Linked DNA regions of Homo sapiens: region 1 is linked to region 2. Evidence: fine-mapped expression QTL. A gene starts in region 2. The other region holds a variant in brackets. All regions are shown on one strand. Distances are from middle to middle.

Region 1 (5,370 bases), 27 kb before region 2:
GTGGGCTGTGTCGCAAGTGACAGAGGATGGGGGACCCTCTGAGCCATCAATCTAGCCCCTCAGCTCCCTTGGGAAAAAACACCCACACCTCCAACCACCTGATTCTGCCAGGAATTGAACTGCTCAGAACATTCATTGGTGGTGATGTGTGTGCCCATGGGCCTCGGAACCCATGAGGCCGCTTGCGTCTCCAGTAACCAGCTGGCATCTGATGGCTTTTGGTGCCCAGAGTCTAGCTGTCAATCCCCCGCCCTGCCCTGGGAACAGGAGGAGGCAGTGCCATCGCCCTCTGTTGCCCGGAGCTTGTGCGTCACTCAAGGAGAGGTGCCAGGCGATCACTTGAGATGCTCTCGGCATCTTCCCTTCCTCGGTCCATGCTCTCGGCGCAGGAAGAGCAATGGCAGTGGGAACGCTCCAGCAGGAGCTGGAGGAAGCAAGGGAGGGAAGTCAGGTGCCCAGAACACGGGTGCCCTGCAGAGAGGGCTGCACAGGCCCAGCTGGCTCCACCCCTTTTCTGCTGACGTCTGGCCTTGAAATAGACCGGGAACTGAGTAACCTTGGAGGCGGGACGGAGGGGAGATGGCATATCAAGCTGGCTGATTAATGAGCTCTCTTGAAGCGGGTTTGAGAAGTGACATCAGCAAGCCCCCAGCTTCCTCCCTAGTCGGGGGTCAGAGTGAGATGCCCTCTCCGGGGAGCTGGCACGCTGCGGGGTCTAGAGCCCCCAACCAGCAGCTTCAGAGGAAGCTACAGGGGAAGCCTAGAGCACCACCCGCTAGGGACATGGGAGGTACCCGTCAGCCGCAAGTGACAAAGCAGCCTCCAGCCAGTGGGCACGCACAGCCCCTCTTCTCTCTGGCAGTGCCTTAGGTGTGGACTCCAGGATGTGGCAGCACCTGTAGGTTGCCCAGCCCCTCTCCTTTCCCTGCAAAAGGCAGGCACGGGAAGCCCTTGACAGCTGCCTCCACCATGGTGCTGTGGGAAGCAGTTCCTGAAGGAAGACCAGAGTAGGCCTCTCCCCGGGAGACCTTTTACTACCTCGACAGATCTGCGCCAGCAGGATTTCTCAAAGGGAAAAGCACACAGAATTCTCCTCAGAACTGGTTGAAAATGCGGATTCCTGGGCCCTGTGGCCTTCGAATATACTGCATCAGGCCTGGCGCAGGACCCAAGCATCTACATTTTTATTAAGAGCCCGAAGGCACTCTTGTGCCAGTGGTCAGGCAACCAGATCTTGAGAAACACTTTCCTGATCCAGGGGAAAGGGACCAGCTGGGAAGTGTTCCCAGAGACTGTTCACCTGCCTCTCAGGTGAAGCACAGCCTCCCTGCAGTAGTGTGGGAGAAGGCGCCAGAACTGGACATTACAGACCGCAGGGGCCTCCCGGCCTCAGCCAGTGCCCAACACCCAATACCAGTCCCTGCATTCTCTTCCCATCAAGGTGTTCAGAAAATGTCTCAATCCATGGTTGAAGGAAGTTCTTGCCATTGCCAAACTACACATGCCCTGCGGTGGCTCAAGACCCTTCTAGAGTCACACTCACATGGGGTATCTGCTGCCACACCCCCAGTGCCTCCTTTTGTGCCTGAGGCTTATGAAAATGTTCCTTGGTCCACTGTCAGCGAATCCACAAGACATCCGGGCTTATGCTAATTCATCCGATATCATCATTAATGTGCACCCTAATCGTTCAGCTCTGTGTAAGGGCCATCATAGCCGAGTCCCTCGCACCTCTCTGCTGGCTGTAAACCCTCTGGGGTTCTGTGGCTCCTCTCCTCAGGGCCAGGGTGCACTGCACAGCGCACACTCAGCTATTTCTTCTCTGCACACAGGTGCTGCTTTTGAGCCAGTGTGCAGGGCCAGCACCGCTGGCTGGGACACTGGCCACACGAAGGATCACGGCTATTACTTTTGAGTGAGTGCTTTATTTAATTAAACAATTACTGCTAGGGCCCTGGGGCGCTATATAGAAAGACATCAGGCTCTGCTTATGATACACACCCTGTAACAGAGCAAGCATCATTCAGGGAATAGCACAGCCTCACAAAACTTGGCAGGGCCACCACAAATGCCACAGACTGATCTACAGGATAAAAGGAGCAGCCAGACACGGAGCAGAAGACAAACAGTTTGGCATATACAGTTTTCATTTTAGTTAGCACAAAATATTGAAG[A/G]ACATTCCATGTTACTCTCAAACTACTGGGAGGTTGCTAGATTCCACAGACTATGGAGTTTTTTGACACTTTTATTTTGTGAAATGAAGAAAAAAATAAAAAATAAAAAAGGTGGCAGGGAGAGATCTGAAATCAACAACTGGGATGTACTCTTAACAGATATAATAAAAACTATTTTTAGTTCTTTGCCCAGAAATGGGAGTTCTGGAAGCAGCGGGGTGCACAGTGTGGGATGGACTGGGCTGTTGAGCTTTGGGAGTCTGCCCGGGGCTCAGCTTCTCGAGGGGAATGACTGGAAATGCATGTGCACGCACAGGTCAGTGGCCAGGATCAGCCCAGGTGGCTTGGGAAGTGAGGCACACCGGGTTTTTATCCCTGACTGCACCACTCACAAACAAGGAGGGCTTAGGCCTCGGGCTCGGGGTCTGACTGGGATCAGGATGAGACCTGCAAAGAAACGGTCCTGAAAAAGCTCAGCGCAGAAGGTCCCCAGCAGGGATGGATACTCCCCCACTGAGCCCTGCCTGGAAGCTTCCCAACCAAATTGGCCTGTGCACAGGTGTGGGGCTCGGGTATATACTTATCAAGCTCCGCGGAGCTCTCCCAGCTCAGGGATGTGGATGGGGAGAGGGGAAGGGGAATCGCTGGTTACTGCTTTCAGGTGGGCTGCCTATGATGTCCACCCCAAGCCCTGCCTGCCTGTTTCTCCAGCAACATCAACCGGGCTTTGGGGTTCTGCACCTTTGCCTATGAATACACGGATATCTCCCTTTACACAAGAGAAGGGCTCCTGAAGTTCTTTTACAAATGCTTAATTTTCACAGAACAACATTTAAATACACTAGGGAAACTGAGTACTTAAGAGAAATCTGAAGCAAATCCTTCTGTAAAGTAAGGAATCACTTTGTAACAAGTAACTACCCTCCCAATTTATTTCATACCTTTGGATTTTCATATAATGGGGTTCCTAGGAGTTAAGAATGCTGGGTGTGTGTGGGTCAAGGTCATGGCAACAGATCATTTCCCATCTCCATTCACTTCCTGGGGGAATTGGTGAATGGGGGTGGGGTGAGGGATGAGCAACCAGGTAAGTTACACTGCCGTTTTCCCCACGTGCCCGGGAGTAAACCTGGCTTGCTGCGGGTAGGAAGTCTTTGCAAGGCTATACTCATTATTTTACAGACAATGGAGATGGGGTAAAGAAATATGGTTTAGGCTAAGCACCCCAAATCCAAAATTCCAACACCTGAAATGCTCCAAAATCTGAAACTTTTTGAGCACTGACACGATCCTCAAAGGAAATGCTCACTGGAATATTTTGGATTTTTGAATTTAAGATGCTCTACTGTGAGTATAATGCAGATATTCTAAAAATCTGAAGAAAATCTGAAATCAGAAACGCTTCTGGTCCCAAATATTTTGGGGAAGGGATACCCAACCTGCACATTCTACCAGGGCCAGAGACACCCAACTGTCATGCTGTGAAGGGGGCTATGTCGGTCACCAGCTTAGAAGCAAGAACATAAGACCCTGTCACCCCTCAGGACCTTGACAGAGGCCCATGAGCAGCTTCCGAGCTGGGTAAGGGAGTGGTAGGGAGAAGAAGCCACTGCCTGCTGCTTTGTGACACTGAGTCCCCCAGTCTGGCACCTGTACTGAGACCATAGAGGCGGTGGCACGGGGGACTAGGCATCATCCTCTCAACTGGCGCATAGGTATTGGCCAAGGTGGGGACAGGTCATAGGTCGTGGGGCATGATGGATGGTGGGCATAATGCCAGTCAACCGAACCCACGTCCCTGAGAGTGACATTAAAAACAAAAACAGCAACCCTCTCCCTGAGCAGGAGGAGAAAGCATGGGCACTGGGGATGAGGGTGGAGGAGGCAGTCACAGGGTGACTCAGGGAGGCGTCACCCAGGTGTCCTCAGCAAGGTGAAGGGACAGGCTGGAGCAACTCCGGGAAGAAAGGAGGGACAGGGGCCGTGCTCAGACAGGAGCAGCAGTGGCGGAGGAATGGGTGGGGTGGTGGGGGTTCACGCTGTCCCTGGCTAGGAGCTAGAGAGACAAGCTGCAGTGTGGGAGTGAGTGACAGGCAACCTGAATTTCATTTAGGGAGGGCTGGGGTAGGGGGATGGAAAGCACACGGAAGACAAGAAGCCATTCCTGGTCTAAGATATATAGACAGCTCCTAGGGAAAAAAAGCAAGCAAGCAAGAACAACACAGGCCTGTCCCTGTATTATTGATTTCCTTGAAAAAGAAAGAGACAAGCTAATCCTTTGAGGTCACCATTTCAGCCTGAGCGCAGTCGCTGTCTGAAGTTAGAGTTCACCCAGGTTAGACTCCCAGCTCTGCTTGGGTGGCGGGTACGGGCACGCACATTTTTGGGGTGCGGGGAAGAAACACATTCTTCCTTGACACCCAGTCTCACGGGATGACTGCAGAAGGCTCAGCATGTGTGGGACAAACAGGACCTGGCACATGCATCTCAGGGGCTCACAACCCCACACCAAAGCTGGCTGAAGACACCTCAAAGGCTCAGCATATGTGGGACAAACAGCACCCGGGACATGCATCTCAGGGGCTCACAACCCCACACCAAAGCTGGCTGAAGACACCTCGAAGCCTCACCGAGTCCAGCTCCTGGTGGTGGTGGGCACGGGTTAGAACGACTGCACGCAGTGCACCTGCGGTGCCACCAGGTGTGACGGACATCTCTCCATAGGCGAGAGGGGAGGAAAAGGTGAAAGGCAAAACAAACCCGACCTTTCTAGAGTCTCCAGAACTGAATGAGGAGGAACTGACAAGAGGTGCGTTGGGAGGGAGAAGAAAAGGAAAGGAGAGAAGATGGGCTTCCCGGGTCACCCCAGTGAGCCCCTACATGGTCGCCATCCTATAAAGGAGGCACTTGGATGTCCCCGACCCTGGAAGCAACACCCTTCCCCCTCCAGGCGTCCTGGAGTCTCCTCCTGACTCGTCTTGGTTTGGTGTGAGGCTGAGTCCTAACTCACGTGAACCACATGAGAGGGTGGATGTTGCCCAGGAAGGGACACTCTTGACAGGCTGTCTGCTTTCTGGGCTGAGGGTCCTGCATTCCGTTTCTAGACGGGCCAACCCACTAGACTCCTAAACAGAGACAGCTTGCTTATCCTGTCCACTTTCTTGCCAGGCCCTCCCCAGGCCACCTTTCCTGTTTG
Region 2 (5,370 bases):
GGTGACTTTTACATTAATAGACAGCATAGAGATTTCATCACTGACAGCAGGAGGCTAGGAGCTGTTACATAATTCCACAAATGAGAGGGACACTATTTATTCCATTCCAGGGTTCATGAAAGACTTCACCTGAGAGGCTGGGTGCAGTGGCTCACGGCTGTAATCCCAGCACTTTGGGAGGCTGAGGCGGGTGGATCACCTGAGGTCAGGAGTTCAAGACCAGCATGACCAACATGGTGAAACCCTGTCTCTACTAAATACAAAAAATTAGCTGGGCAGGGTGGTGCATGCCTGTAGTCCCAGCTACTTGGGAGGGTGGGGCAGGAGAATTGCTTGAACCTGGGAGGCAGAGGTTGAACCTGGGAGGCAGAGGTTGCAGTGAGCCGAGATTGCACCATTGCACTCCAGCCTGGGCAACAAGAGTGGAACTCTGTCTCAAAAAAAAAAAAAAAAAAAAAAAAAAGACTTCCCCTGAGAAATTACACAGGTGATGGGTGAAGAAGGCTCCTTTATTGCCACACATGAATGGCACAGGCCCAATAGGAAGACTCTGGAATCAGGAAGGCTTTCTTCCAGCTGTGAAGGAAATGTCTTGGAGACACTTCCTTGTCCATCACACCACAATGCTAGTCTGTGAAGCTAGCAGAAACAGACCAGAGATCCCCAGGCTAGGAAGCTATGTACAAGGCAGGGCAGCTGTTGAAGGCAGGTCAAGTTCTAGAAAACTCTTGCTACTTAGGGCAGTGCTGCTTTTGCCTGGGAGGGTTGGTAGCAACCTGAGTCAACCATCTGATTATTCCAACCCTCTGGCTACTTATCCAGGCAAGAGGGCCCTGTGATGTAACAACTATGACCAATCATACGTTACATAGAGAAGATAAACTGCGTGTGTGTTGGGGGCAGCCAGAGGTAACACAGACCTAAGACAGTGAGAATCAATCATTCTAATTGTTCTAATTGCAGAGTCCACCAAACTGTAATTAGAAGTCTCTGTATGCTTTCGCTGCTTCTTACGCCATCCAAGACTATAAAAGTTGTGCAATTTAAAATTCAGTAAAGACCAAAGCGGTTTCCAACTGCTGAGATGAGCAAAACCCAGAGTCAACAGCTGTCAATCACTGTTCATCTGAAGGGCAGCACTGCAGGCAAGTGTGGTAGCCTGGAGATGAACATTATTTCTTTATTTTTGAGACAGAGTTTCGCTCTTTTTGCCCAGGCTGGAGTGCAACGGCTCGATCTCAGCTCACTGCAACGTCCGCCTCCCGGGTTCAAGCGATTCTCCTGCCTCAGCCTCCCGAGTAGCTGGGATTACAGTGCCACCATGCCCGGCTAATTTTGTATTTTTAGTAGAGACAGGGTTTTACCATGTTGGCCAGGCTGGTCTTGAACTCCTGACCTCAGGTGATCTGCCCGCTTCAGCCTCCCAAAGTGCTGGGATTACAGGCGTGAGCCACCGTGCCCAGCCCGGGATTAACATTATAAACAGCATGGCGATTTTGTTTGGCTTGACCACTCTGACAAACACCTTAAAAAGAGAATAAATCTGACTTACATTCTGAGCCACCACAGCAGCACTGTAGTCGCTGCCCCATGGAACTCCCCCATCCTGCTTCCACTATGGTCTGCTCAAGCAGCAGCACTCACTAGTCCCATCTCCAGCAAGCAATGTGCTTTTCTAGAAGCCAGGAACACTTAAGTGAGCAAAAGGTTCTATAAGTCACACTCACGTAGGAAGAGTAGAGTTCCCCGGTCTCTGTAATTTCACCCGCCATTTCCAAAAGTGAGGAAGGGCTGGCAGCAGAGGTTCCTTAGGTGCAAGGACGGCGGCTGCCGCAGCTCCTTAAAACAAAAGAGCAGGCTTCACCTATCTGATGGACTGAGACAGGGGTGGGAGGAGGCTTGCAGACTTCCCCTGCCACCTCTGGTTCTTTTATCACAGACACTTAGGGCCTCAGTATCTGTCACAAGACTCACCCCCGAGGGAGGGGTCACCCTGGATGACAGAAATCTGGACGGTTTCTTCTAACATTTCCCTTGCTGTGCAGGGCACTGCTCTGTGCCCAGCACGGATGTTTTCAATGCTGCTCGGGGTGCAAGTGATTTAAGGGGCCTCTAAAACCACTAAGTCTCACCCACCACAAGAGCCCCCTTTCCACGCTCTGGGGTGGTTATCCTCGTTTAGTTCCAGGAACCAGGAGCTCACTACCACACATGGGAGCCCAAGGAACTGTCTGCCGCCTCTGCCTAGGGCAGGGAGCTGGGGGCTTTCCTACATTGCCCTTCCAACTCCACTCTTGGCACTAAGGCCTCCTTTTTTTAATGGGGCCTCCACTCCCTGGCCCCACCTACTCTCTTAGGGTTCCCCACCCTCAAAGCTCCCTCTTTTCTCAAGAACCCCACTCCCAGCCTCTCCCTCTCTCTCCCTCCTGGAGGAGTCCCGAGTCTAGTGCCGCCCCGCCCCGCCCCAACCTATCCCGACCCGTCTCGTCCTCTCCCGCCCGTCCCGACCCGACCCGACCCAACACCTGCAGCACAGCCAGCTCCCAAGCCGCCGTCTCCCGCCGGTCCGCTGCTGCCGGCGCCAGCTGTCCAGCACCAGCTTCCGCAGCGCGCATGCGCCGGCCCCACAGCCCACCTTTTTCGCGCGCGCTGATTGGGCGCCTCGCGGGGGCGGGACCGGGATTGGGGCCTGGCGGCTGCCGTCAGCATGGCGGAAGTGGGCGGGGCGCGTTCTCACGCGCATGCGGAAGGGGCGGTAGCCGGCCGGGCCTGGGAACGTGGCTGGTTGGAGGAGGTAGATCACCCTTTCTGCGGGGGACGATTTCGTCGGTGGTAGGTGGGTGTGAGCTTGGCAGTACCCGGGTCCGCGTGGTTGGAGGGTCGAAGAGAGTGGTCTAGAACGCCACTCAAAGGGGAGGGCCTAAGACTAAGCCCGCCTTGCCCTGAAGTGGTCGGGGGCGGGGAGGGAGTGGCTAGAGCCCCGTGGGGTGGTCGCCGGGGTAAGAGGTTGGAAGTAGGTTTAAGGCAGGGCTGAAAGTTGATTCTGGGTTGGAATCCCTGGACTGGGGCAAGTAATGGGAGCTCTGGGGATACTTTGGTACTTGGTACTTGGTGCTTGGGTTTGAGGAATCGAAGTTCTGGGGAGTGGACGGAAGGAACCGGCAGAAACGGAGCCCAGGCTTGGCCTCTTGGAGTGGGAGTCAAGGATTGTTTAATTATCCTTAACCAGCCTGGTTCTCTTTCTTGCAAGAATTTTGGAGTCTGTATTCTTTGAAGTGTCTAGACGGAACTAATGACGGAAGTCAACTTAGCCCCAGCAGGAAAGCTGGAGCGCCTACCCAAAGTTGGAGGAAATTCAGGGTCCTGAAGTCTTTGCTCTCCCCATCTGCATGCAGGCTGCTACCATGAGGTTGAATCAGAACACCTTGCTGCTGGGGAAGAAGGTGGTCCTTGTACCCTACACCTCGGAGCATGTGCCCAGGTATCTTTCCCGCTTGACATGGGGTGCGTATCAGCACCCAGAGCTGTGTAAGGTACAGCCCCAGTCTCAGGGCTATTTCCCCTAAGAAGAAACATTGGTTGTGAGAAATAATTATATATGAGGGGGGAAAAAAGGCTGGGTGCCGTGGCTCACGCCTGTAATTCCAGGACTTTGGGAGGCTGTGGCAGGAGGATTGCTTGAGCCCAGCAGTTCGAGACCAGCTTGGGTAACGTAGCGAGACCTTGTCTCTACAAAAAAATACAAAAATTAGCCAGGCATGGTGGTGCACAGCTGCAGTCCCAGCTACTAGGGAGGCTGAGGTGGGAGGATTGCCTGAGCCCAGGAGATGAAGACTGCTGTGAGCTGTGATTGTACCACTGTACTCCAGCCTGGGTGACAGAGCAAGAACCTGTCTCAAAAAAAAACAAAAAAAACAAAAAAACAAAAACAAACAAAAACAAAAAAACGGCCGGGTGCGGTGGCTCACGCCTGTAATCCCAGCACTTTGGGAGGCTGAGGCGGGTGGATCATGAGGTCAGTAGTTCAAGACCAGCCTGGCCAACATGATAAAACGCCATCTCTACTAAAAACACAAAAAATTAGCTGGGCTTGTTGCCCGGCACCTGTAATTCCAGCTACTTGGGAGGCTGAGGCAGGAGAATCACTTGAACCAGGGAGGTGGAGGTTGTGGTGAGCCGAGATCACACCACTGTACTCCAGCCTGGGCAACAGAGTGAGACTTTGTCTCAAAAATAAAATAAAATAAAATAAAGGCTGGGCGCAGTGGCTCACGCCTGTAATCCCAGCACTTTGGGAGACCGAGGCAGGCGGATCACAAGCTCAGGAGAGCGAGACCATCCTGGCTAACATGGTGAAACCCCGTCTCTACTAAAAATACAAAAAAATTAGCCGGATGTGGTGGCGGGCGCCTGTAGTCCCAGCTACTCGGGAGGCTGAGGCAGGAGAATGTGTGAACCCGGGAGGCGGAGCTTACAGTGAGCCGAGATCGCGCCACTGCACTCCAGCCTGGGTGACAGATCGAGACTCCGTCTCAAAAAAAAAAAAAAAAAGAGACCAGCCTGATCAACGTGGAGAAACCCCGTCTCTAATAAAAATACAAAAAAAATAGCTGGGCATGGTGGCACATGCCTGTAATTCCAGCCTGGGCAACAAGAGTAAAACTCTGTCTCAAAAAAAAAAAAAAAAAAAATAGCAGAACCTGGGGACTGTGACTTCCTTGGGAGGAGCTGCCCATCCTCTTCCCTTTCATTCTCTCAGCTTTTTGGCCTTTCAGCAAGGAATTGCTTTATGTAAACTAAACGTGGAAGAAAAAGAAATTGTCTTCTCACCTAATTGTAAATTAGTGATGTTTCCCTGGTGCCAGTGAGTATGTTCAGTTCTTGGAGACTTAATGTTAGCTTGTCCTTGAACTCTGAGCTGATGAGTTGTGATATCTACCATTCAAAAGGCCAGGACTGAGTCATGATGGGATTCCTGTGGGGGCAGTTGGCACATGTCTGGTAGATTGGGATAGTGGTGCTGTAGATGGGTATTCTCTACTTGTAGTTTTCCGTTTGAGGGTTCCTGGTGCCCTAACTTCGTGGGATCTGTCCAGCCGCCTTTGTTGAGGTTGGCTTGCCATATACATCCCCTTCTGGAATTTGAAGAATGTTTGGTTTCAGACTGCTCCTCCGCACTGACCCGAGACAGGATAGGAAATTGGACAGATAGAACTGACTCGTCCTGCTGTTCTTGTGTAAGACTAGCTTGCTTCTGGGTCTTGTGTCTGTGGCCCCTGCCTTAGGAGCAATCATAACCCTTTGGGTCTTCTTTGAGCCCTATGTTAGCCCTGTCTGGTTCTGGACCCTCATAAGGTGTCAGACGTATGC

Direction of the effects. Positions count from the first base shown, and alleles are read on the strand shown. Sizes are in standard deviations (SD) of each study's normalised expression.
In carriers of allele G in region 1, the expression in tibial artery of the gene that starts at base 2,604 in region 2 tends to be higher than with A alone (small effect, 0.18 SD a copy in GTEx).

The links. PIP is the estimated chance that this variant, and not a neighbour inherited with it, causes the effect.
Region 1: its variant is the best candidate, but not a certain one, in a credible set for the expression of SLC38A12 in tibial artery (GTEx, PIP 0.58).

What each region holds. Positions count from the first base shown.
Region 1 is chr17:74,800,810-74,806,179 of GRCh38, reverse strand. All of the region lies in intron 8 of SLC38A12 (solute carrier family 38 member 12), which reads right to left. Among named protein-coding and RNA genes, the nearest start is that of SLC38A12, 27 kb to the right of the region's middle. The variant A/G (reference allele first, on the strand shown) is at 2,175.
Region 2 is chr17:74,773,733-74,779,102 of GRCh38, reverse strand. SLC38A12 (solute carrier family 38 member 12) reads right to left here and starts at 2,604. Exons shown (of 10, transcript NM_017728.4): 1 at 2,526-2,604; 2 at 1,728-1,839. The coding sequence starts at 1,772. It overlaps NAT9 (N-acetyltransferase 9), which reads left to right and starts at 2,758. Exons shown (of 7, transcript NM_015654.5): 1 at 2,758-2,836; 2 at 3,396-3,481. The coding sequence starts at 3,405. RefSeq lists an enhancer at 2,957-3,076.